Regions from separate parts of the Homo sapiens genome. Here region 2 is linked to region 1. The links come from fine-mapping of genetic effects on gene expression. A gene starts in region 1. The other region holds a variant in brackets. All regions are shown on one strand. Distances are between the middles of the regions.

Region 1 (15,816 bases):
GTGAACCCAGGGGACGTAGCCTGCAGTGAGCCAAGATCGCGCCACTGCACTCCAGCCTGGGCAACAGAGCAAGGCTCCGTCTCAAAAAATAAAAAAATAAATAATAAATAAATTAATAAATAAATAAAAACATGACATTTGGGTGGGGACACAAAGCCTAACCACATCAGCCAGCTTGGTGAGTCTTGGTATTCTGCATCCTGGACCTCCTCACCCTGGACTAGATGCATCTTTTTTTTTTTTTTTTTTTTTGAGACGGAGTCTTGCTCTGTCGCCCAGGCTGGAGTGCAGCGGCGCGATCTCTGCTCACTGCAAGCTCCACCTCCCGGGTTCATGCCATTCTCCTGCCTCAGCCTCCCGAGTAGCTGGGACTACAGGCACCCGCCACCATGCCTGGCTAATTTTTTGTATTTTTAGTAGAGACGGGGTTTCACCGTGTTAGCCAGGATGGTCTCGATCTCTTGACCTCGTGATCCACCCTCCTCGGCCTCCCAAAATGTTGGGATTACAGGCGTGAGCCACTGCGCCCAGCTAGATGCATCTTAAAGTATGAGAAACCACCTTTTGAATGGCTTCCACAGGGTATGGAAAAGTGGTATGATTTCAGTAGCACTTCTCATACTTTTTTTTTTTTTGAGATGGAGTTTCGCTCTTGTTGCCCAGGCTGGAGTGCAATGGCGCAATCTCCGCTCACCACGCCCGGCTAATTTTTAGTAGAGACGGGGTTTCTCCATGTTGGTCAGGCTGGTCTCGAACTCCTGACCTCAGGTGATCTGCCCGCCTCAGCCTCCCAAAGTGCTGGGATTATAGGTGTGAGCTACCATGCCTGGCTGCACCTCTCATACTTTAAGATGCATAAAAATCACCTGTTAAAAATGCACATTCTGGGCCGGGTGTGATGGCTCACGCCTGTAATTCCAGCACTTTGGGAGGTCGAGGTGGGTGGATCACCTGAGGTCAGGAGTTCGAGACCAGCCTGGCCAACATGGCAAAACCCCGTCTCTACTAAAAATACAAAAAATTAGCTGGGTGTGGTGGCAGGTGCCTGTAATCCCAGCTATTTGTGAGGATGAGGCAGGAGAATCGCTTGAACTGGGAGGTGGAGGTTGCAGTGAGCCCAAATTGCGCTACTGCACTCCAGCCTGGGCAACAAGAGGGAAACTCCAACTCAAAAAAAAAAAAAAAAAAAAAAAACACATTCTGATTCAGTAGGTCTGGGGGCTGAACCTGAGATTCAGTGTTTATTTTTATTTTTTTGAGACAGGGTCTCACTCTGTCACCTAAGCTGGAGTGCAATGGCATGATCATGGCTCACAGCAGCCTGGACTTCCCAGGCTCTGGCGATTTTCCCACCTCAGCCTCCAAAGTAGCTGGGACTACAGGTTTGCGTCACCACACCTGACTAATTTTTTTCTTTTCTTTTCTTTTATTTGAGAGAAGTCTCACTCTTATCCCCCAGGTTTGAGTGCAATGGCTCGATCTTGGCTCACTGCAACCTCCGCCTCCCGGGTTCAAACGATTCTCCTGCCTCTGCCTCCCAAGTAACTGGGATTAAGTTGCCTGCCACCACGCCCGGCTAATTTTTGTATATTTTAGCAGAGACGGGAGTTTCACCATGTTGGCCAGGCTGGTTTCGAACTCCTGACCTCAAGTGATCTGCCCGCCTCGGCCTCCCAAAGTGCTGGGATTACAGGCGTGAGCCACTGCGCCTGGCCGCGGCTGGCTAATTTTTTTCTAATTTTTGTAGAGATGGGGTCTCACCATGTTGTCCAGGCTGGTCTCCAACTCCTGGGCTCAAGCAATCGTCCTGCCTCAGCCTCCCAAAGTGCTGGGATTACAGGCGTGTACCACCACGCCTGGCCAGATTCTGTGTTTCTGACAATCCTCCTACTGATGCAGATGCCTGTACACTTCCTGGCTATCCTATCTGCCAGCTGTGTGGCCTCAGGAGGCCTCAGCATCTCCCTGGGCTTCAGTTCTTCCGCTGGATATTATTTAGATGAACAAACATATATTGACAGCTTACTACACGCCGGGCTGCTCTGGGTGCTTGCTAGAAAAACAAAGATGAAGAAGCCACAAGCCAAGCCCAGGCATGCCTCACAGACAGAGAACTTAAAGGTCCAACTACAATATTTAAAGACTCTGCGTTTGAAAATTTCATGACTCATTGGCAGAAATAGGACGACCGGATCTGCATCTCCCAGAAAACATCTCTCCAAACACTATGACAGGGATTCCCCGCTGACTACTGTCCTCAGAATCAGGGAATACGAAATCCAGAAGTAACCTCAAGAGAAATTTAGCCCAAACTCTATCTTGCCATTTTACAGAGAGGAGAAACTAGAGAACAGATGCAGAAAGAGTGGGGTCTGGAGGAAATTACTGGTTTTCCAGCTATGCTTTCGAAGGCTGTGATGTCCAACAGGAATAACATATGAGCTACAAAAAACTTAATATGTAATATTAAATTTTGTGGTAGTCACATTGAAAAGAGTAAAAAGAAGCCAGGCACAGTGACACATGCCTATAATCCTAGCACTGTGGGAGGCCAAGGCAAAAGGATTGCTTGAGGTCAGGAGTTTGAGACCAGCCTGGGGAACATAGTGAGACCTTGTCTCCACAAAAAAATTTTAAAAATTAGCTGGGCGTGGAGGTGCACGTCTACAGTCTCAGCTACTAGGGTGGCTGAGGCAGGAGAACTGTTTGACCCCAGGAGGTCGAGGCTGTAGTGAGCCAAGATGGCGCCACTACAGTCCAGCCTAGGTGACAGAGTGAGACCCAGTTTCCAAAAAAAAAAAAAGAGAAAGAATCGTTTCCATTGGTTAGCGCATCACTCCCAGGATCACTGGTTTCATTTTTATAGACACTGGATCAGAAAATTAATCTTTCAAGTACAGGTGTAGCTTTCTGTAGCCAAGTTGAATAGAATTACACTTCTGAGGCTGGGCACAGTGGCTCACGCCTGTAATCCTAGCACTTTGGGAGGCGAAGGCGGGCAAATCACGAGGTCAGAAGTTCAAGACCAGCCTGGCCAACATGGTGAAACCCCGTCTCTACTAAAAATACAAAATTAGCTAGGCGTGGTGGTATGCGCCTGTAATCCCAGCTACTTGGGAGGCTGAGGCAGGAGACTGCTTGAACCTGGGAGGTGGAGGTTGCCACCACTGCACTCCAGCCCGGGTGACAGTGCGAGACCCCACCTCAAAAGAAAAAAAAAAATGAATTATACTTCTGAGGCTGTGCACAGTGGCTCACCCCTATAATCCCGCAACTTTGGGAGGCTGAGGTGGGAGGACCACTCGAGACCAGCCTGGGCAACAGAGAGAGACCTTGTCTCTACAAAACATTAAAAAAGAAAAAAAATTTAGCCAAGTGTAGCTGTCCATGCCTGTGGTCTCAGCTACTTGGGAGGCTGAAGCGAGAGGATCGCTTGAGCAAGGAAGGTAGAGGCTGCAGTAAGCTGGGATCATACCATCACCCTTCAGCCTGGGTGCTGGAGGAGCAAGATTCTATCTAAAAAAATAAAAAAAAAAAAAAAAAAAAGAAAGAAAAAATCACACCTCACCCCTGGAAAAGAACTTAAGCGTAGCTGAATCTAACTTGCAATATGATTTTGCTGAAGATGAGGTTAAAGAGTGACGGCAGGCTGGCACTTGCAGCCACATTTCCAAAATTCTGGGTGTAAAATGCTCAGCACAGTGCCAGACACCTGTGCCTCAAAGTGTCAGAGAAATCTCAGCCACCTTCTTTCCCTTCCCCTCTCCCGGTTTTGCACCAAACCATCCTGTCCCTGGAGAATTTGCTCAATTAGAAGCGAGGTGAAATTCCAAGCACAGTTTGAAGGAGGAAGTGTCATTTTCAGCTTGCCTGTAGGTGCACCTCACTATGTAACATTTGTTACATAAGTGGCAGCATGACACGCCTAACTGATGAATGTCTGTTGCACACCCAATTCCAGCCGGGAGAGTCACGCAGGCTTTCCCTGGGAGAATAGTGGTGTGGAATTGAGGCATGGAGTTGCAAAAATTACTTTTGTCTTCTGACAAGTAGGGCCAGTTCCAGGGTGTTATACCCAAAGTGCTTTTCTACTGCAGCATAACCTCAAGAAAAACCAGTTTCAGGAGCACCACACCTAGGATCAGATGATGCAATATGATATTAGCGTCTCATTGCATCAGTGTGTCTGAGGCATGAGTCTTTTAAGCTGGCAAAAAGCATTATAAAGGGGCAGGAGAAAAAAGGAAAAGACTTGCAGACTGAAATCTAAAGGTACTGTCAGTGGTGTTCCTAATTGGCCACACAGGGTGTTTAGAGGATAAACACCCAGCCACCCGCCTCGGCTGACAAGCATCAGCATGCCATTTCCTGAAGGGGACTTGATGGCATATTTAGGCGAAATTCTTTTCTGGTTGGTTCTACTTATGCTTTATATCAAAGCGTCAAAGTTTAACCTCTAAAAAATCTTTTTAAATGCAGGTCTATTAAGAATAGGCTTTCAAAGGGTGCTTCTATTCCATCTTGACTTTTCTGAAAATCTCTGAAACGTACCAGTTGATTTCTCATTTCCAAAGTTCTTTTACATAAGCACTCTCAGCTCTCTTGACACACAGACTTTTGACTTTGATCAAATACCTTAGATTTGGGCCTCTTGGTTTCTCTGTCTTCCTTTACAGGACACTTGATGCTTCCCAGTCCTGTTTCTTGCACTAACAATGAATGAATGAATCACAAAAATCCTAGAACTTTATGCGTTTTCAAGAAGTTGCCTGAAGAAGGAACTTCCTTGTGCGGTACGCCTCAGGAAAAAAGAAGCAGGAGAAAAGCTTTGAGAGGAGAGCAAGTGACGGTGAGATCGTAATGGAAGTGGGGTGGAGAGGTGGAGGGTGGAGACCGGTAGGAAGCAAGCAAGGCTTTTTTCACCCGTCCCAGGACACGCGAACGAGATCAAGCCTCACTGCGGTTCACTAGGGTCTATGCAGGCCCTCGCACCCCTGCCTACCTCCTCAGAACCCAGCCTCTTGGCTCTTCTCACCCCAGCCCCACCAGACAGCTTCCCTCCCAGGAGGTGTCTCTCAAGATCTCGAAATGTGGAGCGTCCCGTTCACTCCACCTGGCCTGGAATACTTTTCCTGCCCCCTTTCATCGGGTCTTATTCATCCTTTAAGTTGTTCAGCATAACTTTCCACCTGAATGCCTTCCCTGGCCCTGGACTAGGATAAATCCCCTCGCCATAATGTTCCTACACAGGCATCACTTTGTAAAGCTTACCACTGTTGTAATTACTTGTTTACTGATCTGTCTTTCCGTTAGGCTGTGCGTTCCACTGGGGTGGAAACCTTGTTCACTGGCTCTGCAGCCCCGGGCACTGTGGGTCTTGCATGTACCGGGGGCTCAGTAAATATTTGGCAAAAAATGAAAAAGTTCCCCTCAAAGCCAGCTTCCAGTGCCTCCACGGCCCTCAAATTAATTATGAATTAATTCACTAATACAGCAAACCTTTATGTGATTCTTCCGTGTCACAGCACCTTGTTACATACTGAGGACACATCCACAGGCAAATAAAACTCAGCTTCTCTCTGCACAGGAAAAAATTATTCAAATTGTATTCATCTTTCATTCCAATCACTCAATTAGGGCACGTCCCTTGTTGGCTGCTGCGTGAGCGAAGTAACTATTTTCCAGCGAGTGTCCTCATGTGACCTGTCTAGACGTGCCCAGGAAAAACAATCCAACATCCTCCTAAGCCGCAAAGAAGTCCCTGACGCGCAGGCCGCACTGCGTGGAAGGCCCAAAGCGCGCTCGCGGGCCCGCGAAAGGCGCAGGAGCAGCGGAGCCGAGGCGGGCGGCGAGGCGCGCGGCGCGCGGCGCAGGCTCGGGTGGGCAGGGCAGGGCCAGGCCGGGCGGGGCGGGGGCGCCGGCAACGGGTCCGCCGGCCGGCAGGGGGCGCGCGCGCCCCGCGCCCCGCGCCTCCCGCCCCGCCGCGCGCTCGCTTGCCGCGCGGCCGCACATGTGTTTCTGTTTTGTGTTGTAGCATTTGTTCTGGAAGCTCGTATTTACATTTTAAGTGTATCTGGTGAGTGGGCTGGAGCCCTCGTCTGGGCCGGAAAAAAAAAAGCCCTCCGATCCGTCTTTTAGTTGCTTCTCTTCCTTTTTTCTCTCCGGTTTCTCATCACTCCAACCAGGTAGGGTCTGAAAATCGACAGTGATCAGTTTGTGGGGTCTGGGAAAGTTTTTTTTTTTTTCCTTTTTTTAAAGAGAAAAGGTTAAAAAAAAACCTGGGGGAGGGGGGCTGGGTGATTGAAGGAATAAAAAGAGGAAGGAAGGCGGATCCACGTGGTTTAATCGGAGACAGACAGAGATCCCATTGTTCAAAATCAATTAAAAAAAAAAAAAAAAGCAGACAGGGGAGAGCGCAGGGACGCCGGGGAGCTGGCGGCGGCCCTGGACACTTTGCAGTCGAATCGGAGACCGGCCGGGCCGCACGGCCGGCAAGGGGGCTGGGAGAGAGTTGGGCACCATTAAAGTTTTTATTTTTCGTGTCTGTGCGAGCAGGTGTTTGGGGCTGGGGTCCAGCTTTCTTCGGGCTCTTCCCCCGTCGCCGGGGGCAGTCCGCCGTAGGGATTCGGCTAACTAGAGCCCGAGGTCGGCACCCCTGAGCTGGGGCCGAACGGGGGTCCAGGGCTGATGCGGGGTGGGGGAGAGCGTTGCATTAAATGCCATGAGTGGGTTTGGGGGGAGACTGCGGAGACAAAAGCAGCAGGTGGGGTAGCCGGGGAGCAGGGGCTCCCTTACCACCCAGGTGCCAAGGGGGAATCCTGGAAGTGTCCCGAAGCCTTCTTTAATGAAAATCTAGGGGACTGGAGGCTGGTTTTACTTTCCCTTTACTTTTGGGGGGCGAGGTTGCAACTGTGATGCTTTGTGGGCAAACCTAACTTACGGATAGGCCGGGGGTCTCAATTCTCCCTCCAGGGGATTGCCTCTGGGGCTCCCGGCTGCCCTGCGGGATTCCCCGAAGGAGCCGCGCCGGGGCCAGGGAGGGGCGCGATTTCCTCTCCCAACTCGCCCCCTCTCCGCCCACCCTGCGGCCGCCACTTTGGGGAGGGCAGAGGAGGAAGTGGAGGCCGGGTGGCTCGTCTCCGCTCCCCTCCCCCCGCGCAGTTTATAACCCGTCCATTGTGCGCCGCTGCCCCGTGTCTCCCTCCAGCCGCGACCATGCCCAGGAAGAAGGCGGCGGCGGCGGCCTGGGAGGAGCCGAGCTCGGGCAACGGCACTGCCCGCGCCGGGCCCAGGAAACGCGGCGGCCCGGCGGGCAGGAAGCGCGAGCGGCCCGAGCGCTGCAGTAGCAGCAGCGGCGGCGGCAGCAGCGGCGACGAGGACGGCCTGGAGCTCGACGGGGCCCCCGGCGGGGGCAAGCGCGCGGCGCGGCCGGCGACAGCAGGCAAGGCGGGCGGCGCGGCCGTGGTCATCACCGAACCCGAGCACACCAAGGAGCGCGTCGTGAGTGAGGGTCAGGGTAGACGGGTGGGCGCAGGGCCGGGGCCGGCGGGCTCAGCGACGCGGCACGGCGCGCGTTCCAGCCGGGGGCCGCCTCGCGTCACGCTCCCTCCCGGCGGCCGGGCCGGCGCAGGCCGCGGGCTGAATCATTGCCTCCGCCTCCGCGCAACAAAAGGGCTCGGTACGGGGCGCGCGGCCCGCGGCCTACCCGACCCCGGGCACCGCGCGGGCGGTTGGCGGTTGGGGCGCGCGCCCGGGCCCGCGGCGGGGGAGGGGCGGCCGAAGCCCGCACGAGGGGGTCATGGCCCCGCCCCCACAGCTCCCTCTGCGCCCCTCCCCCCCCGCCCCGGGAAAGGGGACCTCGGTAAGTTCGCCCGGCCTGGAAGAGGGGGCGGCCAGCGGGCCCCACACGTCCGTGGCCGCCGCTGCGCCCGGGCGCCGCGGGGAGGGGGCGGCCGGCGCTCTGCGGGGAGCGGCCGTTTGCGCCGGGGCTTTGAGGTTCCCGCCGCCTCGGCTCCGGCGCCCGGGGGGGGCGGGGCCTGACGGCCGCCGCGCATGCTCCGCAGAGCCCTCCCCCGAGGTCGGGGAAGCCCCCCGGCTGAGCGGTGCTCGGGCTTTGTTTGCCGCCGGTGGTCCGAAGCTGCAGGATGCTCGCGAGGGCTCTGTTGTAGCCCCCCCAAGTGAAGAAGCATCTCCTAGGGTCCTGGGCGGGCTTCTGTTTTCTCAAATCTTAATTAAGGTCGTGGCTGACTCAAGTTAACGTTCCCGAAAAAGCCTGCAGAGCCGGAGATCTGAACCCGGCATCTGCCGCCACAGCATCTCCCCACCCCCACAGAACTTTCTTTAAGTTTGGTGTGGTGTGGGATATGTTTTTCAGAAGAGGGTCTAAGTTTTCACCAGATTCTCAGATAACCCCCAGAGAGCAAGAACTTCCACCTGGGGTGTAGAGCCTGACACCCGGAGAGGTTTTTTTCCTTCCATAAGTGCCCATCTCCTAAGGGTGTTTAAGGGTTAACAGCAGAGTGCTTTCCTCCAGAGAAGCGCAGGCAGTGTCTAATAACACATTTTCTACGTCCGTTTTATAGATAGGGAAACTGGGGCACAGAATTCGAGGGCCTTGTCCAAAGTCATGGATGGAACTGGATCTCCAAATGCTGTAACTCCTGATGTCCCTGCAAATTGCACATGGGAATATGCTTTGTAAAAGTGCCTTCTGGGTGAAAGGGTTAACATGTTAGGCAGTGGAGGAGAGCCCGTCAAAAGCTGTCAAAAGGTCTTGCCCGGGGTCTTGGATCAGGCTAGACTAGACAATGGCCAAAGTATTGAGAAACTGGAACACAGGAACTGTTTTCCTTTGACGTCTAGTCTGCTGTGCCAGACTCCAGACATTTGCCCTCCGAACACAGTATGTTAGGATGAAACTAAAAAGAAAGGCCAGGTGAGCTTCCGCGTCTCCTGTATCCTATTTTGAGTGAGTTTCCAAAAGCAAGATTGTGTTTAGACATCCAAGACTGCAGTTATCAGCTGTACAGCTCCAGACTGTTGGAACGCTGAATTTTGCCATCAGAGCAAAAGATCCTTACCCCATGCTGAGATTGACCCAAGGAGGTAGAGACAGGGAGTGTGTGAGGGACACTGGCTCTCCCTGGCCCACCTCTGTCTCCAGCTGTGCTGCTTGAAGCTGCTTTGTCAATGGAAATGGCACATTTGTTAGTCTTTTTTTTTTGAGGCAGAGTCTCCCTCTATGGCCAGGCTGGAGTGCAGTGGCACGATCTCAGCTCACTGCAACCTCCGCCTCTCAGGTTCAAGTGATTTTTGTGTGCTGATCAGCCTCTCGAGCAGCTGGGATTACAAGTGTGTTCCACCACACCCGAATAATTTTTGTACTTTTTGTAGAGGCTGGGTTTTACCATGTTGGCCAGGCTGGTCTCAAACTGCTGGCCTCAAGTGATCTGCCTGCCTCAGCCTCCTTCCAAAGTGCTGGGATGACAGGCGCGAGCCCTGTGTTGGGTTGCATGTTTGTAAGTCTTAATGTGAGTAAACAGCAGTCCATTGCAGCTTTTAAGTTCCTGTTTATACACATAAATACGTTATTATTTTACATATGTGTATAAGCAGGACTCTAAAAGCTACATCTTCCTTTCTCTATCCACTTAAAACCAACAGGGGCCCATGATGCCCATCCTTTGGGCTGTCGGTGCTGTTCTAGAATCAGAGCACCTGGGAGGCTGAGGGTTCAGCATATGATGCCCCTTTATGCCTCATGGAAAGTGCACACCCTACATTTAAGTTTTGCTTTTTTTTTTTTTTTTTTGAGCTGGAGTTTAGCTGTTGTTGCCCAGGTTGGAGTGCAATGTTGCGATCTCAGCTCACTGCAATCTCCGCCTCCCGGGTTCAAGCAATTCTTCTGCCTCAGCCTCCCGAGTAGCTGGGATTATAGACGCCCACCACCACACCTGGCTAATTTTTTGTATTTTTAGTAGAGACGGGGTTTCACCACGTTGGCCAGGCTGGTCTCGAACTCCTGATCTCAGGTGGTCCACCCACCTTGGCCTCCCAAAGTGCCCCACGTTTAAGTTTTGTTAGCATCTACTGAGTTTGGTCCATGTTCGGGGCTGGGTCCATGCAGCCCCATTGCCTTTCCATAGGCCTAGGGCAGCCCTCTGCCCCTTGTCCTGGGTTGGCCTCCTGCCCAGTCTCCCTGGCCCCAGGTTTCTGGTCTCTGTTTCTCTGTTGAGCAGTCCTAGGGACCCTGTGTGCTGCCACAGGCAGACAGCAGTCCTTGTTGCAGAAAGAACCTTTTTTACTGAGCATTTTGCATGCCTTGCCCCGCTCAGGGTTGCTAGGAGGAGGTCTGTGTGAAAGCAGCCGCCCAGGAAATGTCCAAAACCATATTGCCTTCAGTGACCCCAAAGCTGCAGGTGTCGGGCTTGTAGAAGATGAGCCAAATACTTACATTGTTGAGGGGCAGAATTGCCTTGAGTAAAAGATGTGCATTTTATAGAACATTCTTATGGCAGATGAGCGTTGTCATTGCCTAGGTGTTAAGAAAAAATTCAAATTCTTTTTTCCTCCGCTCTCACGGCCACACTCAACAACCAACACCAGACTTCTTCCGCACCCCCCACCCCAGATGGAGTCTTGCTCTGTCTCCCAGGCTGGAGTGCAGTGGTGTGATCTCAGCTCACTGCAGCCTCCACCTCCTGGGTTCAAGCAACTCTCCTGCCTCAGCCTCCTGAGTAGCTGAGATGACAGGCACCTGTCACTGTGCTCGGTAATTTTTGTATTTTCAGTAGAGATGGGGTTTCACCATGTTGGCCAGGCTGTCTTGAACTCCTGACCTCGTGATTTGCCCGCCTCCCAAAGTGCTGCGATTACAGGCGTGAGCCACCACGCCCCGCCTCCCAACACAAGACTTCTGTGACTAGACGTAAAGGGAGGTCTCCCCCTGCTATCAAGCAAGCAATCAGTTCTGCAGCACACACCGGCTGGGTGTCCTCCAGTTCATCTCTTGACACTATCCACCTGGAGGTAGATTTCCTCATCTTGAGGGCTCAGTCCCCAAGACTGTCCTTCCACCCCAGACACCAGTTGCAAGTCCAGTCCCTGGTAGCTTCTGACCAACTAGCCTCTAGTTGGGGTTCTCATGACCCCCTCTTTGGGGTCGATTAATTTATTGGAATGGCTCACAGAACTCAGGGAAACACCAGTTTATTATAAAGGATATTACAAAGGCTATGGATAAAGAGACCTGTAAGGCTAGATGTGGCAGAAGGGGCACTGTGTTTCCGTGCCCTCTGCAGACCACCCACCTGGTACATGTTCAGCTCTCCACAAGCTCTGTGACCTGGTCCTTACAGGTTTTTAACGGAGGCTTCATTATGTAGGCATGGTAGATTAAGCCATTGATCATCACTTTAACCTTCAGTCATCTCCCTCCTGAGGTTGGAGGATGGGGCTGAAAGTCCCTAGGCTCCCACTGCCCCATCCGGAAGCTGCCTGGGGGCTGCCAGTGTCAGTCATTAGCATACAAAAAGACATTGCTTTGGAGATTCCAAGGATTTGGGAAGTTGCATGCCAGGAACTCCAAATATTGATGGCAGTGTCACACTAGGGTAGATTCAGTCCTAATTCTTTGCGCACTTCATAACCTCCTAAAGCAAGTAAAGGCAGCAGCCTTGGCCAGATCCTACAAAACAGGTGAGTGTTGCAAGCTGCCCAGGTCTTTGTAGTTTTTCCAGTCTTGGGTTGCCAAGGTTTTGTGGACCCTGAGACAGATGTGTTGAATCTGAAAGGAGCAAATAAATAAAACTGAAAGCCAACCCGGAAGTCTGTTTCAGTTGATGGCCCTTAGGTAATTGGTCGATGCCGGCATTGTTCCCGGGGGTCTTACCTCCCCGGAGCAGCGGTCTTCTACATGGACCTATGTTAAAAGGTTGACTCTGGGCCCCGTAAACGCGCACCTTGCATTTGGATCATAATTCAAAAATTGCTTTAGACTAGAAATCCCATTTTGTTGATTGAAGAAGCTCAGTGCCTTTTCTGTCCATTTCTGTGTGTCTCTGCCCAGGTTATGTGACCAAGTTGCTGGAGGCAGCCAGGTGAAATGACATGAAAATCACTCATCTCATTGGGCAGACTGTTTGCCAGGCTGTCTGCTGCGTGGCCTTTATACACAAGCAGGGTCGCAGACACTGAGTTCGTCCAAAAAAACAATCCGTAGGCCCATCAGGGAAGGCTGGATTCCGCCTGGGAGGGCACACTGAGCTTCAGACACCCACACACCCACTGGCACCCCCGCCCTGCCCCGCCGCCCCGGGTGGAGCCCGCAAGCGCGGGAGTCTCTCCCACGATTGGCTGTTTCTGGTCTCTGAGGAAGAGGAGCACCCCTTAAGTGAGAAGGGGTGCTGGGAGTTCTCTGTTACTCTATTTAAATGTTAATTCCACATAAGGCAGAGGAAAGAAGTTATAGAGAAATAAAAGAAAGCAGCTTAGAGCAAACAATTATGTAAATAATAACGAAATACACTAACCTCCATCTAATGTGTGAGGAAATAGGATCCATGACGTAAAAACTTGAATAACAGTTAATGTCCTTCATAGGAATCTGACCACCGTCACTGGAGTAGACTCAGTTTACCGGGGTTTTTCACACATACACACGTATATATGTATATGTATACACACGTATGTATATGTGTGTGTGTGTGTATATATATGTGTGTGTGAGTGTATATATATATTTTTTTCTTTTTCTTTTTCTTTTTCTTTTTTTAAGATGGAGTCTCGCTCTTTCGCCCAGTCTGGAGTGCAGTGGCGCGATCTCGGCTCACTGCAAGCCCCGCCTCCCGGGTTCATGCCCTTCTCCTGTCTCAGCCTCCCGAGTAGCCGGGACTACAGGCGTGAGCCACCATGCCCGGCCCACAAATACATTTTTATTGGCGTGGTTGGGTTTGCCTATAAATGCTTAGCTAGCTTGATGGATCAGTCTTCATGAGCCCTTGACCAAATGTCCAGGTCACCCAGGAAACTCCCTCCCCAAGGCCAAGGCCACTGCGGTTAAGCTCTGGCTGTCTGAACTTGCCCCTGAACCATGCCCTCTGGCCTGATGGAGCTGAGGCTTCTGGTGTGGCCTCAGCACTGTGAAGTTTTGCTGCAGTGGTTGCATCTCAGTGTAGGGTGGTTTGACTTCAATGGTTCATACTGAGCACAGGTGCCCATGAACCTCCGCCTGCCTGGTCTGCAGTTGCTGGCATTCCAGGGCTCTTTTCTAGGCTTGCCCTCTGGCCTGGGAGCTTGGTCTCCAGTGCCTTAGCACCCTTCCTGGGTCTCTACTGCCCCCTCCATGCCAACTTGGTAGGCTTGGGCAGAGGACCCAGAGGCCTCTCCTTCCACAGGGACTTCAACAGAAGCCATTGAATATAGACCTGTAGCATATTCCAGCCAGGCCTGCCAGTTAAACAAAGAAGGGCAGATAACCAGGGGAAGCTAGGCTCCAATTCAAGTAACCTGAGTTGTGGGTGCTGCAGGGGCTGGGCCACCCTCTGATTAAGGTCATTTTCTAAATAATTTAAATGAACCAAAGTTGTTCTCCCTTTCCGTGTTGTTTCACTTCCCTCCCCCCAACTTTTTTTTTCTCTTTTTGAGACAGAGTTTCGCTCTTGTTGCCCAGGCTGGAGTGCAATGGTGTGATCTCGGCTCGCTGCAACCTCTGCCTCCTGGGTTCAAGCGATTCTCTTGCCTCAGCTTCCCAAGTAGCTGGGATTACAGACACCCGGCTAATTTTTTGTATTTTTAGTAGAGACAGGGTTTCACCATGTTGGCCAGGCTGGTCTCAAACTCCTGACCGCAGGTGATCCACCCACTTTGGCCTCCCAAAGTGCTGGGATGACGGGCCATGAGCTACCGCGGCTGGCCTCACTTCCCCTTTTCATGAGGACTGCAGGATGCATTCCTGTAGATTGACCATCTTTTTCCTGTTACATAATGTGGTGGAGTGGGCAAGCGTGACGGAACCTATATCTTGGGGGACGCCCTAATCAGGTTTGGGTCGTGTAAAGGTTCCTATTGAAGTGGAAATCATCCGTCATGAAGATGTGTAATCTTAGAAATGCGTGAGCCGTACTGCCAAAGCATACCCATGGGGTGATCACACTGTAGAGGTTAGAATGATTGGGCCTGGAGCTGCCCTTTTTTCTTTTTCTTTCTTTCTTTTTTTTTTTTTTTTTTTTTTGAGACAGGGCTGGCTTTGTCACCATGGTTGGTCTTGAACTCCTGACCTCAGGTGATCCGCCTGCTTCAGCCTCCCAAAGTGCTGAGATGACAGGCGTGAGCCACCACACCCAGCCCACATATATATATATATATATATATTTTTTTTTTTTTTTTTTTTTTTTTTTGAGATGGAGTCTTGCTCAGTCGCCCAGGCTGGAGTGCAGTGGTGCGATCTTGGCTCACTGCAAGCTCCGCCTCCTGGGTTCACACCAATCTCCTGCCTCAGCCTCCCGAGTAGCTGGGACTACAGGTGCCGGTCACCATGCCCGGCTAATTTTTTTTGTATTTTTAGTAGAGATGGGGTTTCACCGTGCTAGCCAGGATGGTCTCTATCTCCTGACCTCGTGATCTGCTTGCCTCAGCGTCCCAAAGTGCTGGGATTACAGGTGTGAGCCACCGCGCCTGGCCAACAAATACATTTTTATTGGCATGGTTGGGAACTTTCATCGGCGTTATTTTATTGGCATTTTATCGGCACTTTGGGAGGCCAAGGTGGGTGGATCACCTGCGGTCAGGAATTTGAGACCAGCCTGGCCAACATAGTGAAACCCTGTCTCTACTAAAAACACACAAAATTAGCTGAGTGTCTGTAATCCCAGCTACTTGGGAGGCTGAGGCAAGAGAATCGTTTGAACCCGGGAGGCAGAGGTTGCAGCAAGCCGAGATCACGCCACTGCACTCCAGCCTGGGCAGCAACACTGGGAGTGCAATGGTGCAATCTCAGCTTACTGCAACCTCCGCCTCCCGGGTTCAAGGGATTCTTCTACCTCAGCCTCTGGAGTAGCTGGGACGACAGGCGGATGCCACCACGCCTGGCTAATTTTTTTGTATTTTTAGTAGAGACGGGGTTTTACCATATTGGCCAGGCTGGTCTTGAACTCCTGACCTCGTGATTCACCCGCCTCAGCCTCCCAAAGTGCTGGGATTACAGGCGTGAGCCACTGTGCCTGGCCCCCTTTTTTTTTTTTTTGAGACAAGGCCTGGCTATGTCACCTAAGCTGGAGAGCAGGTGTGATCTTGGCTCACTGCAGTCTCCAGCTCCTCAGCTCAAGCAATCCTCCCACCTCAGCCTCCCAAGTAACTGGGACCACAGGCTCATTTTTCTATTTTCTGTAGAGACAAGGTTTTGCCATGTTGCCCAGCCTGGTCTCCAAGCTCAAGCAATCTGCCCGCCTCGGCCTTCCAAAGTGCTGGGATTACAGGCGTGAGCCATTGCGCCTTGCCAGACTTTTTTCCTGAAGCCTTCCAAGAACAATTCTGTAAACTGAAGGAAACCCCTTTCCTTTTCACGTCCAGGAAAGATGTGTAAGAGCGGAAAGTGATAGCAGTGAATGCTTCCCTTGCCAGTGTGGACTGAGTGAGGAGTTCAGAATTGAGTCTTCCACTAACAACCTACTTGAAAAAGTATATTTTGACATTTAAGGAAGCAAAGTGCTGAGAATATTATGAGTGCCACCCAGAATTGAACAATGGCCTTTTTAAATGGCGTAGATTTTCGTTGACAGTATGAGAGTTGGTGGCCCTGATGACTTTGTGTTGAGAGAC
Region 2 (15,816 bases), 32 kb before region 1:
TGCATGCCTGTAATCCCAGCTACTCGGGAGGCTGAGGCAGGAGAATCGCTTGAACCCAGGAGGTGAAGGTTGTAGTGAGCCAAGATCATGCCACTGCACTCCAGCCTGGGCAACAGGAACGAAACTCTGTCTCAAAAAAAAAAAAAGAAAAAAGAAAAAAGAAAAAGAAACCCTGTCTCTACTAAAAAATACAAAAATTAGCCCGGTGTGTTGGTGCATGCCTGTTATCCCAGCTACTCGGGAGACAGAAGCAGGAGAATCACTTGAACCCAGGACGTGGAGGTTGCAGTGAGCCGAGATCACACCACTGCATTCCAGCCTGGGCGACAGAGCAAGACCCCGTCCTAAAAAACAAGAAAAATCAAGGCCACCAAAGCAAAACATGCCCACGCTGAGTCCATGCTCAGGCCCTGCAAGGAAATGCAGAGCAGCAGAGAAACACAACTGCGGTTCCTGAGGGCAGAGTCAGCGGGTTTCAAGGCTGAAAAGGGAGTCAGTTGCACTCTGCGAATGAGGCCTGGAAAACCAGTGCCCGGGAGAGGAACGAATGGGTCCACAGGTCTGAACACAGTTGGTCCTGTTGTTCATTGATCAGAAAAACTTCCATTAGTATCTGCTGAGATCCTGGCCATTCCAACTTCAGGATCTTTTATCAGCTTCAGCTCACTAGAGCCCCTTGTGGTGAAATACAACACTTAGGTTTGAAGGCTCCTAGAAAGTGCTGCTATAAATGGAAAAAATAATTTACAAAGTGAAGCGTCAATGGACAACCTTTCTTCTCCCTCAACCTCCTTTTCTGTAATTTTTTTTTTTTTTTTTTTTGAGACGGAGTCTCACTCTGTCACCCAGGCTGGAGTGCAGTAGGGCAATCTTGGCTCACTGCCACCTCCACCTCCTGAGTTCAAGCGATTCTCCTGCCTCAGCCTACTGAGCAGCTGGGACTACAGGCACACACCACCACGCCCAGCTAGTTTTTGTATTTTTTAGTAGAGATGGGGTTTCACCATATTGGCCAGGATGGTCTCGATATCTTGACCTCGTGATCCACCTGCCTCAGCCTCCCAAAGTGCTGGGATTACAGGTGTGAGCCACCGTGCCCAGTCAACCTTTTCTGTATTTTTCTACTTTCCCTTCAGTGATCCTCTGTATTATTTTAATATTTACAAGAGACAGCAGGGCGTGATATCTCACACCTGTAATCCCAGCACTTTGGGAGGCCGAAGTGGGCAGATGATTTGAGGTCAGGAGTTTGAGACCAGCCTGGCCAACATGGTGAAACCCCATCACTACTTCTGGTCCCAGCTACTCAGGAGGCTGAGGCAAGAGAATCGCTTGAACGGGGGAAGCGGAAGCAGAGGTTGCAGTGAGCCGAGATTGTGCCACTGCACTCCAGCCTGAGGGAGTGAGACCTTGTCTCAAAAACAAAAAAGTTTACAACAGACTTTCAAGAAACATCAGTTGCCAGACACGGTGTCTCACACTGATAATCCCAGCACTTTGGGAGGCAGCGGCAGGCAGATCACCTGAGATCAGGAATTCGAGACTAGCCTGGACAACATGGTGAAACTTCGTCTCTACAATAATACAAAAAATTAGCCAGGCATGGTGGCGTGTGCCTGTAATCCCAGATACTCAGGAGGCTGAGACAGGAGAATAGCTTGAACCCATGAGGCGGAGGTTGCAGTGAGCCGAGATCACGCCACTGCACTCCAGCTTGGGCGACAAGAGCAAGACTCTGTCAAAAAAGAAAAAAAAAAAAAAGAAACATCATCTTAGTGAGGAGGGTGACCTTCACTTACAGCCATGCTGTAACTGGTACCCCACAAGCCCTCTCATCTTAAGAAACCATTAAACTAAACTGGACAAAAGCCGTGAATGCCAGTCTTCAGGCACTGAACCACAGGCAGCACAAGCCTATGACCCCCGAGTGGAGGGAAACTCACAAGGTGAGACTTCACCCTCTGCCCCTCTCCCTACCCTCTTCCTGGGGACAGTTTTGTAATCACTGCACGGTGAGCTGGAGTCCAGGCAGAACTTAGTGTCCTGCTGAGCTGAGAAGGTGGAGTTAGCATTTGGGGCAGTGGAAATGGCTAGAAATGGTGGGACATGGTGCCAGAGAGGAGGAGTCTGTGCAGAAGGAGGCCCCGAGGTCTGGCAGGGGAGAGGAGGAATGTCCACTAAAAGTCCTTGACTAAGGGCTGGCTGAACATGCATGGGGGAAGATGACGCCAGGCCTCCAGATAGCATCTTCTGCAGGGTATAAGTGAAACAGGCTGGGCATAGTGACTCACACCTGTAATCGCAGATTCTCTCTTGCTCTGTCACTCAAGCTAGAGTGCTGCAATTACACAATCACAGGCCTCTGCTGCCTCAACATCCTAGGCTCCAGTAGCCCTCCCACCTCAGCCTCCTGAGTAGTTGGGACTGCAGGCATGTGCCACCATGTCCAGCTACTGTATTAATTTTTTTGTGTGTTTGTAGAGATGGGGCCCCACTATGTTGGACAGCCTGGTTTTGAACTGTTTCTTTTATTTTTTTGGAGACAGATCTTTGCTCTTTTTGCCCAGGCTGGAGTGCAATGGTGCGATCTCGGCTCACTGCAACCTCCGCCTCCCAGGTTCAAGCGATTCTTCTGCCTCAGCCTCCCAAGTAGCTGGGATTACAGGCACATGCCACCATGCCCAGCTAATTTTTTCTATTTTTAGTAGAGACGGGTTTCACCATGTTGGCCAGGCTGGTCTTGAACTCCTGACCTCAGGTGATCCGCTTGCCTCGGCCTCCCAAAGTATTGGGATTACAGGCAAGAGCCACCACGCCCAGCCCTGAACTCTTAAACTCAAGTAATCCTCTCACCGCAGGCTCCCAAAGTGCTGGAATTAGAGGCATGAGCCGCCCCACCCAGCCTGGAAAATGTATAGCTTTCAATGGTTATAATAGCAAAGAATGGTTACATTGGAGATGGTTATATTAAGAATCTAAGAGAACAATAGAAAATTAAACCCAAAGTAAGTAGAAGAAAATATATAGCTTGCAATGGTTATAATAGCAAAGAATGGTTATATTGGAGATGGTTATATAAAGAACCTAAGAGAACAACAGAAAATTAAACCCAAAGTAAGTAGAAGAAAAGAAACAATAAGGCTGGGCGCGGTGGCTCATGCCTGTAATCCTAGCTCTTTGGGAGGCCGAGGTGGGCGGAGTTCAAGACCAGCCCGGCCAATATGGTGAAACTCCCTCTCTACTAAAAAATACAAAAATTAGCGGGGCTCCGTGATGCGCACCTGTAGTCCCAGCTACTCGGGAGGCTGAGGCGGGAGAATCGCTGGAACCCGGGAGGTGGAGGTTGCAGTGAGCCGAGATCACGCCACTACACTCCAGCCTGGGCAACAGAGCGACACTCCATCTCAAAAAAAAAAAAAGAAAGAAAGAAAGAATAAAGATCAGAAATCAATGAATTAGAAAAAAGAAGAAAATAGAAAAAAATTATCAAAAACAAAAGTTGGGCCAGGTGAGGTGGCTCATGCTTGTAATCCCAGCTACTTGGGAGGCTGAGGCAGGAGAACCACTTGAACCTAAGAGGCAGAGGTTGCAGTGAGCTGAGGTCCTGCCACTACATTCCAGCCTGGGTGACAGAGTGAGACTCTGTCTCAAAACAAACAAACCAACCAACCCACAAAAGTTGGTTATTTGAAAAGATTCACAAAATTGATAAACCTCAAGCAAGACTAATCAAGAATACAAAAGTGAATTAGCCAGGCGTGGTGACACATGCCTATAATTCCAGCTACTCAGAGACTGACGCTAGTGAATCGCTTGAACCTGGGAGGTGGAGGTTGCAGTGGGGCAAAATTGCACCATTGCACTACAGCCTGGGTGACAGAGCAACACTCTGTCTCAAAAAACAAAAATAAAAAAAATTAAAAGTAGGCCCGGCATGGTGGCACACGCCTGTAATCCCAGCACTTTAGGAGGCTGAGGCGGGTGGATCACAAGTCAGGAGTTCGAGACCAGCCTGGCCAATATGGTGAAATCCCGTCTGTACTGAAAATACAAAAATTAGCTGGGCATGGCGGCATGCACATGTAGTCCCAGCTGCTTGGGAAACTGAGGCAGGAGAATGGCTTGAACCCAGGAGGCGGGGGTTGCAGTGAGCCGAGATTGCGCCATTGCACTCCAGCCTGGGGGACAAGAGCGAGACTTCGCCTCAAAAATAAATAAATAAATAAATATAAAAAAATTAAAAAGTAAAAACACAAATTCCTAATATCAGGAATGAAGGGATATTGTTATAGATCCTAACATATAATAAAATTTGTGCCAGCAGACATGGTGGCTCACATCTGTAATCGCAACACTTCAGGTGGCCATGACAGCAGGAGGATCAGTTGAGGCCAGGAGTTCAAGACTGGCCTGGGCAACATCGCCAGACCCCATCTCTACAAAAAAAAAAAAAAAAATTAACAGGGCGTGTTGGTGTGTCCTACAATCCCAGAGACTGTAGTGACCACAGGCACACATGACCAGAGTTGGCTAATTTAAAAAAAATTTTTTTTTTTTTTAAGACGCAGTCTCGCTCTGTCGCCCAGGCTGGAGTGCGGTGGCATGATCTCGGCTCACTGCAAGCTCTGCCTCCCAGGTTCACGCCATTCTCCTGCCTCAGCCTCCTGAGTAGCTGGGATTACAGGCGCCCGCCACCATGCCTGGCTAATTTTTGTATATTTAGTAGAGATGAGGTTTCACCATGTTCACCAGGCTGGTCTTGAACTTCTGACCTCAGGTGATCCACCTGCCTCAGCCTCCCAAAGTGCTAGGATTACAGGCATGAGCCACCACGCCCGGCCTCAGAATAATATTTGACCAAAGTTCTTGTTACCAGAAAGGGGTCCTGATGCAGACCCCAAGTTCCTGGATCTCTCCCAAGAAAGAATTCAGGGCGAGTCCGTACAGTAAAATGAAAGCAAATTTATTAGAAAAGTAAAGGAACAAAGAATAGGTACTCCACAGGCAAAGCAGCCCTGAGGGTTGCTGGTTGCCCATTTTGATGGTTATTTATTAATTATGTGCTAAACAAGAGGTGGATTATTCATGTTTCTCCTTTTTAGACTTTATACAGTAACTGCCTGTCGTTGCCATGGCATTTGTAAACTGTCAGGTCACTGGTGGGAGTGTAGCAGTGAGGACGACCAGAGGTCATTCTTATCGCCATCTTGGTTTTGGTGGGTTTTAGCTGGCTTCTTTACTGCAAACCTGTTTTATCAGTAAGGTCTTTATGACCTGTATCTTGTGCCAATCTCCTATCTCATGCTGTGACTTAGAATGCCTTAAACGGGCCAAGTGCTGTGGCTCAGGCCTGTAATCCCAGCACTTCGGGAGGCCAAGGCCAGTGGATCCCTTGAGGTCAGGAGTTCAAGATCAGCCTGGCCAACCCCGTGAAACCCCCGTCTCTAGTGAAAATACAAAAATTAGCCAGGTGTAGTGATGTATGCCTGTAGTCCCAGCTACATGGGGGTGCTGAGGCAAAAGAATTGCTTGATCCCGGGACGTGGAGATCATGCCACTGCACTCCAGCCTGGGCAACAGAGAGAGACTCTGTCTCAAAGAAAAAAAAAATGCCTTGGCCGGGCGCGGTGGCTCACGCCTGTAATCCCAGCACTTTGAGAGGCCGAGGCAGGTGAATCACCTGAGGTCAGGAGTTCAACACCAGCTTGGCCATTGTGGGGAAACCCTGTCTCTACAAAAGATATAAAAATTAGCCAGGCGTGGTGGCAAGCGCCTGTAGTCCCAGCTACTCGGGAGGCTGAGGCAGGAGAATGGTGTGAACCCGGGAGGCGGAGCTTGCAGTGAGCTGAGATTGTGCCACTGCACTCCAGCCTGGGCGACAGAGCTAGACTCCGTCTCAAAATAATAATAATAATAATAATAATAATAAAGTAAAATAATTAACCTGGACTCTTATTTCACACCTTACACAAAAACAGAATTTTTTTTTTTTTTTTTGAGACGGAGTTTCCCTCTGTTGCCCAGGCTGGAGTGCAGTGGCACGATGTCGGCTCACTGCAACCTCTGCCTCTTGGGTTCCAGCAGTTCTTCTGCCTCAGCCTCCCAAGTAGCTGGAACTACAGGCATGCGCCACCATGCCTGGCTAGTTTTTGTATTTTTAGTAGAGACAGGGTTTCACCATCATGGTCAGGCTGGTCTGGGCTTGAACTCCTGACCTTGTGATCTGCCCATCTCGGCCTCCCAAAGTGCTGGGATTACAGGTGTGAGCCACCATGCCTGGCCGAATTCTCTTTTTAAAAAAATAGTGTCTCCACCAGGCACAGTGGCTCACACGTATAATCCCAGCACTTTGGGAAGGTGAGGATTGCTTGAGCCCAGGAGTTTGAGACCAGTGTGGGCAACATGCCAAAGTCACATCTTTATAAAAAATACAAAAATTAGCTGGGTGTGGTGGCACATGCCTGAAATCCCAGCTTCTAGGGAGGCTGTGGTGGGAGGTTTGCTTGAGCCCAGGAGGTCAAGGCCACAGTGAGCTATGATCATGTGACAGAGTGAGACTCCATGTCCGAAAAAAAGAAAAAAAGAAATGAGGGTCTTGCTCTGTTGCCCAGGCTAGACTACAGTGGTGCAATCATAGGTCACTGCAGCCTTGAGTTCCTGGGCTAAAACAATCCTATGAACTCAGCCTCTTGAGTAGCTGAGACTACAGACGACCACCACCATGCCTGGCTAATTTTTAAATGTTTTGCAGAGACTAGGTCTCACTATGTTGCCTAGGCTGGTCTGGAACTCCTGGTCTCAAGTGATCCTCCCTTCTTGGCATCCCAAAGTGCTGGGATTATAGGCATGAGCCACCACACCCAGCCCCATTTTTTTAAATGGGCAATACACTTGAACAGACATTTCACAAAACAAAGTAGATGAGTATGCCATAAGTACACGAAAAGATGTTCTATATCATTAGTTATCAAGGAAATGCAAATTAAATCACAATGATCAAATTAAAATCAAAATCACTTCTACTAGAATGGTTATAATTTAAAACATTTTGCCAAAACACCATGACTCACACCTGTAACCTCAGCCCTTTGGCAGGCCAAGGCCGGAGGATTGCTTGAGCCCAGGAGTTCAAGACCAGCCTAGGCAACACAGTGAGACTCTGTCTCTACAAAAAATTTAAAAATTAAAAAAAAACAAAATTAGCCAAGCATAGTGGTGCACACCTGTAGTCCCAGCTGCTCTGGAGGCTGTGGTGGGAGGATCACTTGAGCCCTGAAGGTTGAAGCTGCAGTGAGCCAAGACTGTGCCACTGTACTCCAGCCTAGGTGACAGTGGGAGATTCTGACTGAAAAACAAAAAACAAAAAACAGATTTACAGTATCAAGTGTTGTAGAGGATTAGGAGCAAATAGAACATTCATAATTTGCTGGTGAGTATGCAATATAGTACAACCTCTTTGGAAATAGTTTGTCAATTTCCAATACACACACTTACCGTAAGACTCACCAATCTCACTCCTAGATATTTATATGAGAATTGATACCATGTGGCTACACAGGACTTTTACCTGAATATTCATCACTGCTGTGTGCATAAGAGCCCCAAACTGGAAAGAATCCGGATGTCCATCAACAGGAGAATGGATAAACAAATCGTGGTTTATCTGTACAGCGTGGAAAACTTGCGGGAGGCCAGAAATACGCCACCCCAAAATAAGACTGCGGGAGACCAGAATATGCCACCCCAAAATATGCCTCATTGGCATAAGGATTATTTAGAGCTGATTATTTTGAGAAACTGCAGACACAAGAGGAGCTCTAAAAACAGAGTAGGAGTTACTCTTTTGTAAGGAAAATTTGCATCTCTAAAGGAAACCTCCATTTGAAAGAGTATCTCCCTCTCCATATCAGGAAGAGAAGAATGACTCTAAATTACTAGAAACTCTTATCAATGGAGAAAGCATCAGTTGCAATCTGCATAACAAACCCTTGTTTGCTGAGCTTTTTCTGGTCATCGCTCCATAGCTGCCCTCCACTTCCACACACCTTTCTTTCTTTTTTTTCTTTCTTTTTTTTTTTTTTTTTGAGAAGGAATCCTGCTCTGTCTCCCAAGCTAGAGTGCAGTGGCGTGATCTCGACTCACTGCAACCTCCGCCCCACCTCCCAGGTTCAAGCAATTCTCCTGCCTCAGCCTTCCGAGTAGCTGGGATTATAGGCGCCCACCACCACACCCGGCTAATTTTTGTATTTTTAGTAGAGACAGAGTTTCGCCATGTTGGCCAGGCTCCTGACCTCAGGTGATCCACCCGCCTC[G/A]GCCTCCCAAAGTGCTAGGATTACAGGCGTGAGCCACTGCGCCATGCCTCTTTTTTTTTTTTTTTTTTTTTTTTTGAGGAGTCCGTCTCTGTCGCCAGGCTGGAGTGCAGTGGCTTGATCTCGGCTCACTGTCTCTGCCTCCTGGGTTCAAGCAATTCTCCTGCCTCAGCCTCCCAAGTAACTGGGATTACAGGTGCCCGCCACCATGCCTGGCTAATTTTTGTATTTTTAGTAGTGACGGAGTTTCACCATGTTGGCCAAGCTGGTCTTGAACCCCTGACATCAGGTGATCTGCTCGCCTCCATCTCCCAAAGTGCAGGGACTAGGGGCCTGAGCCACCGCGCCCGGCCCCCCCCACCCCCACCCCCACCCCCTTCTTCATGTTAGTTGAAGATAGTATTTAAGCCAACAAAGCAAAGCCACTTCTTGGAGATTTCCCCTTTTCTCTGGGCTTCCCCCACGTATACATAAGGTAAACATCTTAATCAACTTGTGTTGTTTTTCCCTATTTAACCTGCCTCTTGTTACAGGAGAGGGCTCCAGCTTCCTTCCCTGTCCTGTACACTGTGAAAAACTTCTCATCAATAAAAAGGAGTGGATTCAGCCTAGTGCGGTGGCTCACGTCTGTAATCCCAGCACTTTGAGAGACCAAGGCGGGCGGATCACCTGAGGTCAGGAGTCCGAGACCAGGCTGGCCAACAGGGAGAAACCCCGTATCTACTAAAAATACAAAAATTAGCTGGGCGTGGTGGCACATGCCTGTAATCCCAACTATCCTGGAGGCTGAGGCATGAGAACGGCTTGAACCCGGGAGGCAGAGGTTGCAGTAAGTCGAGGTCATGCCACTGCACTCCAGCCTGGGCAGATAGTGAGACAGTGAGATCCTATCTCAAAAAAATAAATAAGGGCAGGCACAGTGGCTCATGCCTGTAATCCCAGCATTTTGAGAGGCCAAGGTGGGTGGGTCACTTGAGCTCAGGAGTTAGAGACCAGCATGGCCAACATGGTGAAACCCGGTCTCTACCAAAAGATACAAAAAATAGCTAGGCATTGTGACGCGTACCTGTAATCCCAGCTGCTCAGGAGGCTGAGGCAGGAGAATTGCTTGAACCTGGGAGGCGGAGGTTGCAGTGAGCTGAGATAGTGCCACTGCACTCCAGCCTAGGTGACAGAGTGAGACTCTGCCTCAAAATAAATAAATAAATAAATAAAGTTTTAGGACAGGCAAAACTGAGCCATAGTGATAGAAATCAGAACAGAGGTTGCCCAGGGGAAGAGGGTGGGAGAAGAGAGATAGCAAAGGAGCTGGAGGAAACACCCTTGGGTCCTGGACATGCTCCACATATGACAGTTAGATGAATGCTCATATTTCTCAAGAGTCATGGCAGAGCGTGGTGGCTTATGCCTGAGATCCCAGCACTGTGGGAGGCTGAGGCGGGCAGGTCATTTGCGGTCAGGAGTTCGAGACCAGAGTGGCCAACATGGTGAAACCCCATCTCTATTAAAAATACAGAAATTAGCTGAGCATGGTGGGGGCATGCCTGTAGTTCCAGCTACTGGGGAGGCTGAGGCAGAAGAATCGCTTGAACCTGGGAGGTGAAGGCTGTGGTGAGCGGAGATCACGCCACTGCACTCCAGCCTGGGCAGCAGAGAGAGACCCTGTGTCAAAAAAAAAAAAAAATGAATCATGAACTGTACACTTAAAATGTGTGCACGCATTTTATGAGTAAATCATGCCTCAACATTTAAAAGAATGAAGAAACAAGGCCGGGCATGGTGGCTCATGCCTGTAATCCCAGCCCTTGGGAGGCTGAGGCGGGTGGATCACCTGAAGTCAGGAGTTCGAGACCAGGATGGACAACCTGGTGAGACCCTGTCTCTACTAAAAATACAAAAAATTAGCCGGGCGTGGTGATGCACGCCTGTAATACCAGCTACTCGAGAGGCTGAGGCAGGAGAATCACTTGAACCTAGGAGGCAGAGATTGTAGTGAGCGGAGATTGTACCACTGCACTCCAGCCTGGGCAACAGAGTGTGAGTCCCTCTGTCTCAAAAAAAAAAAAAAAGAAGAAGAAGAAATGTCATATCAGTATGTAACATAGCAGAGGCATTCTGTTTTTGTTTTTTTACAATAAAGTGTGCTCACAAGATGCCAGGAAAACCCAACATATCTGCTTTGAGAGTACGGTTGGCAAGTTTTCTCACAGGTTGGAGGAGCTGGTTATGGAATTTACAAAGGGACACATGAATGGGTTCTTGTGTGCCAGGCAGGCTGCCTGAGAAGTGCATTACAGATATTACTTAATACTTAAAGCCAGGCATGGTGGCTGATGCCTGTAGTCTCATCAGTTTGGGAGGCTGAGGCGGGTGGATTGCTTGAGCTCAGGAGTTCGAGACTAGCCTGGGCAACATGAAGAAACCCCGTCTCTATTCTTGAAAAATTATTATTATTATTTACTATTATTATTATTATTATTATTTGAGATGGAGTCTCACTCTATTGCCCAGGCTGGAGTGCAGTGGCGGGATCTCAGCTCAGTGCAACCTCCACCTCCCGGGTTCAAGCAATTATCCTGCCTCAGCCTCCCAAGTAGCTGGGATTACAGGTGTGCACCACCACACCCAGCTAATTTTTGTATTTTTAGTAGAGACGGGATTTCACCATGTTGGCCAGGCTGATCTCGATCTTGCGTCTTCAGGTGATCCACCTGCCTCTGCCTCCCAAAGTGTTAGGATTACAGGCGTGAGCCACTGCACCTGGCAAAAATTTAAAAATAAAAAAAAAAATTATTTAATACTTAGAAGAAGACTGAGGTCAAGAATTTGTTATTCCCATTTTACAGAAGGGGAAAATAAGGCACAGAAGTTCAGTAGCTCAATGTAGCTCAGAAATGGGAGCCAGGGCCAGGTGCAGTGGCCCATGCCTATAATCCCAGCACTTTGGGAGGCCAAGGCAGGCAGATCATCTAAGGTCAGAAGTTCGAGACCAGCCTGGCCAACATGGCGAAACTCCATCTCTACTTAAAAATACAACAATTAGCTGGGCGTGGTGGTGCACACCTGTAGTCCCAGCTGCTTGGGAGGCTGAGGCATGAGAATTGCCTGAACCTTGGAGGCAGAGGTTGCAGTAAGTGGAGATCATGACACTGCACTCCAGGCTAAGTGACAGAGCAAGACTCTGTCCCAAAGAAAAAAAAAAAAAAGACTGGACTGGGCCCCTGAGTCAGGAACAGTGTGGGGAAGATTCCAGCAAGGCAGGGGATGACATCTTGAAGACGGGACAGCGCTCCCTACCCCTGTACCTGAGCAAATCCACTTTCCCTCCCGAATCCCACCCACCTGTTCTGGGCCCCGCCTCTCAGATTCCTCTGAAGGTTGACAGATACAATAGCCCAAAACATGCCACTTTGCAATGAGGATCCTGTTGAGCTGAAAGCAACTGAGAAGAAGCAGATAGAAGAAAAGCTCTCTCTGCCAGGGTCGGTGGCTCCCACCTGTAATCCCAGCACTTTGGGAGACCAAGGCGGGTGGATCACCTGAGGTCAGGAGTTTGAGACCAGCCTGACCAACATGGAGTAATCCCGTCTCTACTAAAAATACAAAATTAGCCGGGCGTGGTGGCACGTGCCTGTAATCCCAGCTACTCGAGAGGCTGAGGTAGGAGAATCGCTTGAACCCTGGAGGAGAAGGTTGCAGTGAGCCGAGATAGCACCATTGCACTCCAGCGTGGGCAACAAGAGCAAAACTCATCTCAAAAAAAAAAAAAAAAAGAAAGAAAGAAAGAAAAAGAAAGAAAAGCAGGCCAGGCGCAGTGGCTCATGATGTATGAGAGGCTTGGCCAGGGACAGTATAAGAACAGGCACAGGCCAGGTGTGGTGGCTCACGCCTGTAATCCCAGCACTTTGGGAGGCCGAGGCGGGTGGATCAGGAAGTCAGGAGTTAGAGACCCGCCTGGCCAACATGGTGAAAACCCATCTCTACTAAAAATACAAATATGTGCCGGGCGTGGTGGCACAGGTCTGTAATCCCAGCTACTCGGGAGGCTGAGGCAGGCGAACTGCTTGAACCCGAGAGGTGGAGGTTGCAGTGAGCTGAGATTGCACCATTGCACTCCAGCCTGGGCAACAAGAGCAAGATTCCGTCTCAAAAAAAAAAAAAAAAAAAAGAAGAAGAAAAGCTCTCTGCCCTTCCCGTAGCTGCCAAAAAGCAAGACATAAATTTATAAATGTGCCCACCCCGCAAAAAAAACCACCAGGAAGGACAAAAGTTGATCCCAGAGACACCTCCAGACCCTAAACTTCCTGGGGCCCAGAGGAGTAGACTTAACCGACTCCACTCCTAGCTCCCATCTTCCATTCATCCCCCATATATTGACCCTCTCACGATTTGCTGCCCTAGTGCTTTCCCTTCGTCTTTTCACTTCACTAAAATGTATTCTTCTTTTGTTAAGTTGCTACATAAACCCCAGTTCTAACCACCCTCTTGAGTCACTTACCTCTGAGTACTCCCATGTACAAGTGTCATAATCAACTTCTGTTTATTTTTCTCTTGCCAATCTGTCTTTTGTTAGTCTAATGAATAGGGTCCCAGCCAAAGAATCTAAGATGGGTACACGCCCTACCCACCTTCCTTCTCTCTTCCTCAAGATTCCGAGCGCTCACTGCTATTTAATCATCTCTACCTGTGCCTGTTCTCTTTTTTTTTTTTTTTTGAGATGGAGTTTTCTCTTGTTGCCCATTTTTGAGTGCAGTGTTGTGATCTCAGCTCACTGCAACCTCCACCTCCCAGGTTCAAGCGATTCTCCTGCCTCAGCCTCCCAAGTAGCTGGGATTACAGGTGCACACCACCATCCCCAGCTAATTTTTGTATTTTTAGTAGAGACAGGGTTTCACCATGTTGGCCAAGCTGGTCTTGAACTCCTGACCTCGGGTGATCCACCCACCTTGGCTTCCCAAAGTGCTGGGATGACAGGCGTGAGCCACCGCACCTGGCCTGTGCCTGTTCTTATACTGTCCCTGGCCAAGCCTCTCATACTCCACCATAGTTTCCTCATCTGTGAAACGGGGATTTCAGGAGTACCCACTTCCTGGGCACATATGTGAGGCATGAGGACTAAACTCTGATTTTTTGTTTTTGTTTTTTTTGAGACGTTGTCTGGCTCTGTCGCCCAGGCTGGAGTGCAGTGGCACAATCTCAGCTCACTGCAAGCTCCACCTCCTGGGTTCACACCATTCTCCTGCTTCAGCCTCCCGAGTAGCTGGGATTACAGGTGCCCGCCACCACGCCCGGCTAATTTTTTGTATTTTTAGTAGAGACGGGGTTTCACCATGTTAGCCAGGATGGTCTCGATCTCCTGACCTCGTGATCTGCTTGCCTCGGCCTCCCAAAGTGCTGGGATTACAGGCGTGAGCCACCGCGCCCGGCCTAAACTCTGATTTTTATCTTGCCCAAATTCCTATCTAAGGGGTCTGGGGAGCCATGCCCTACAAATCATAAATTCTCTTCAGATGGGTTTTATTTAACCCTAGGTATTGTGACTGACTTTCCAACCTGACTGACTCTGGCATAACATTATGAGACAAGGAAGAACATCAAAATATTTTACCCCAAAACATGTTTCTTTGTCATATTTTGAAATGTCCCTACAAAGCTGTTCCTTGCTAGGGAAAATTTGCATCTGTAAAGAATCTCTATTAACATAGCTAGATCTTTTTCTTCCAGAACCTCACAATCCTATAGAGATTAACTAAGATCTGAATAGGAAACATTTGCCATTTATTGTCTCTAAAAGCAGCCACTATAAGACTTCAAAAGAACTTTGGTGTCCACAATATTTATCTTTTTTTTTTTTTTTCCTGAGATGGAGGTTTGCTCTTGCTGCCCAGGCTGGAGTGCAATGGCATCATCTCGGCTCACCGCAACCTCCACCTCCCGAGTTCAAGCGATTCTCCTGCCTCAGCCTCCCGAGTAGCTGGGATTACAGGCATGTAACACCACACCCGGCTAATTTTGTATTTTTATAGAGACAGGGTTTCTCCATGTTGGCCAGGCTGGTCTCAAACTCCTGACCTCAGGTGATCTGCCTGCCTTGGCCTCCCAAAGTGCTGGGATTGGGCCACTGTGCCTGGGCTCACAGTATTTATCTTATCCTGAACATTCCCTTTCTATGAATCCCAGGTCTTTGGACAAATTCAACCAATTGTCAACCAGAAAGTGTTTAAATTCACCTATAGCCTGGAAGCAACCCCGCCCTGCTTCGAGTTGTCCTAACTTTCTAGACCAAGCCAATGTAGTTCTTAAGTGTATTTAATTGGTGTCTCATGTCTCTCAAAAATGTATAAAAACAACTTGCACTCCAGCCACCTTGGGCACACATCTCAGGACCTCCTGAGGGCTTTTGTCACGGGCCATGGTCACTCATATTTGGCTCAGAATAAATCTCTTCAAATATTTTACAGGGTCTGACTCTTTGTTGGCATGCATATATAAAGAAGTTTGTCGGGCGCTGTGGCTCACGCCTGTAATCCCAGCACTTTGAAAGGCCGAGGTGGGTAGATCACCTGAGGTCAGGAGTTTGAGACCAGCCTGGCCAACATGGTGAAACCCTATCTCTACTAAGAATACAAAAATTAGCCAGGTGTGGTGCCACGTACCCGTAATCCCAGCTACTCGGAGGCTGAGAGAGGAGACTGGCTTGAACCCAGGAGGCAGAGGTTGCCAGTGAGCCTAGATCACACCACTGTACTCCAGCCTGGGTGACAGAATGAAACTCCATCTCAAAACAAACAAACAAACAAAGTTAAAGTTAAGATATGCAAAAGGGGGCCTGGCATGGGGCTGACATCTGTATTCCTAGCACTTTGGGAAGCCAAGGTGCGAGAATTGCTTGAGCCCAGGAGTTCAAGACCAACCTGGGCAACAAGGTGAAACCTCGTCTCTACAAAAATGTGTAAAAATTAGGTGTGGTGGCGTGTGCCTGTGATTCCAACTACTGAGCCAGGAGGCCAGGAGGTCAAGGCTGCAGTAAGCCATGATTGCAACACTGTACTCCAGCCTGGGTGACAGAAGGAGACGCTGTCTCAAAAGAAAAATCACAACAAACCCTTCTTCCTTTCATGCGTTCAATAAAGATATGCTGAGTGTACTTATCTACAGGGTGGTTTGTGTTAGAAATTTTATTTATTTATTTATTTATTTAGAGCCTCACTCTGTAGCCCAGGCTGGAGTGCAGTGGTGCAATCTCGGCTCATTGCAACCTCTGCCTTCTGGGTTCAAGTGATTCTCCCACCTTAGCCTCCTGGGTAGTTGGAGTTGTAGGCGCCCGCTACCACGCCTGGCTAATTTTTTTTTTTTTTTTGAGACAGAGTGTCGCTCTGTTGCCCAGGCTAGAGTGCAGTGGCGCGATCTTGGCTCACTGCAACCTCCGCCTCCCGGGTTCACGCCATTCTCCTGCCTCAGCCTCCCGAGTAGCTGGGACTACAGGCACCCGCCACCACACCCAGCT

The links.
Region 2: its variant is fine-mapped to the expression of RCC2 in whole blood (TOPMed, PIP 0.93).

Annotation. Positions count from the first base shown.
Region 1 is chr1:17,429,914-17,445,729 of GRCh38, reverse strand. It overlaps RCC2 (regulator of chromosome condensation 2), which reads left to right and starts at 6,053. Exons shown (of 13, transcript NM_018715.4): 1 at 6,053-6,185; 2 at 7,208-7,500. The coding sequence starts at 7,216. LOC124903862 (a long non-coding RNA gene) reads left to right here and starts at 4,187. Exons shown (of 2, transcript XR_007065508.1): 1 at 4,187-4,272; 2 at 4,677-5,594. RefSeq lists silencers at 5,814-5,953, 7,273-7,372.
Region 2 is chr1:17,462,392-17,478,207 of GRCh38, reverse strand. No RefSeq gene overlaps it. Among named protein-coding and RNA genes, the nearest start is that of RCC2, 31 kb to the right of the region's middle. RefSeq lists enhancers at 7,638-8,291, 8,292-8,945, 8,946-9,599, 9,600-10,255. The variant G/A (reference allele first, on the strand shown) is at 8,313.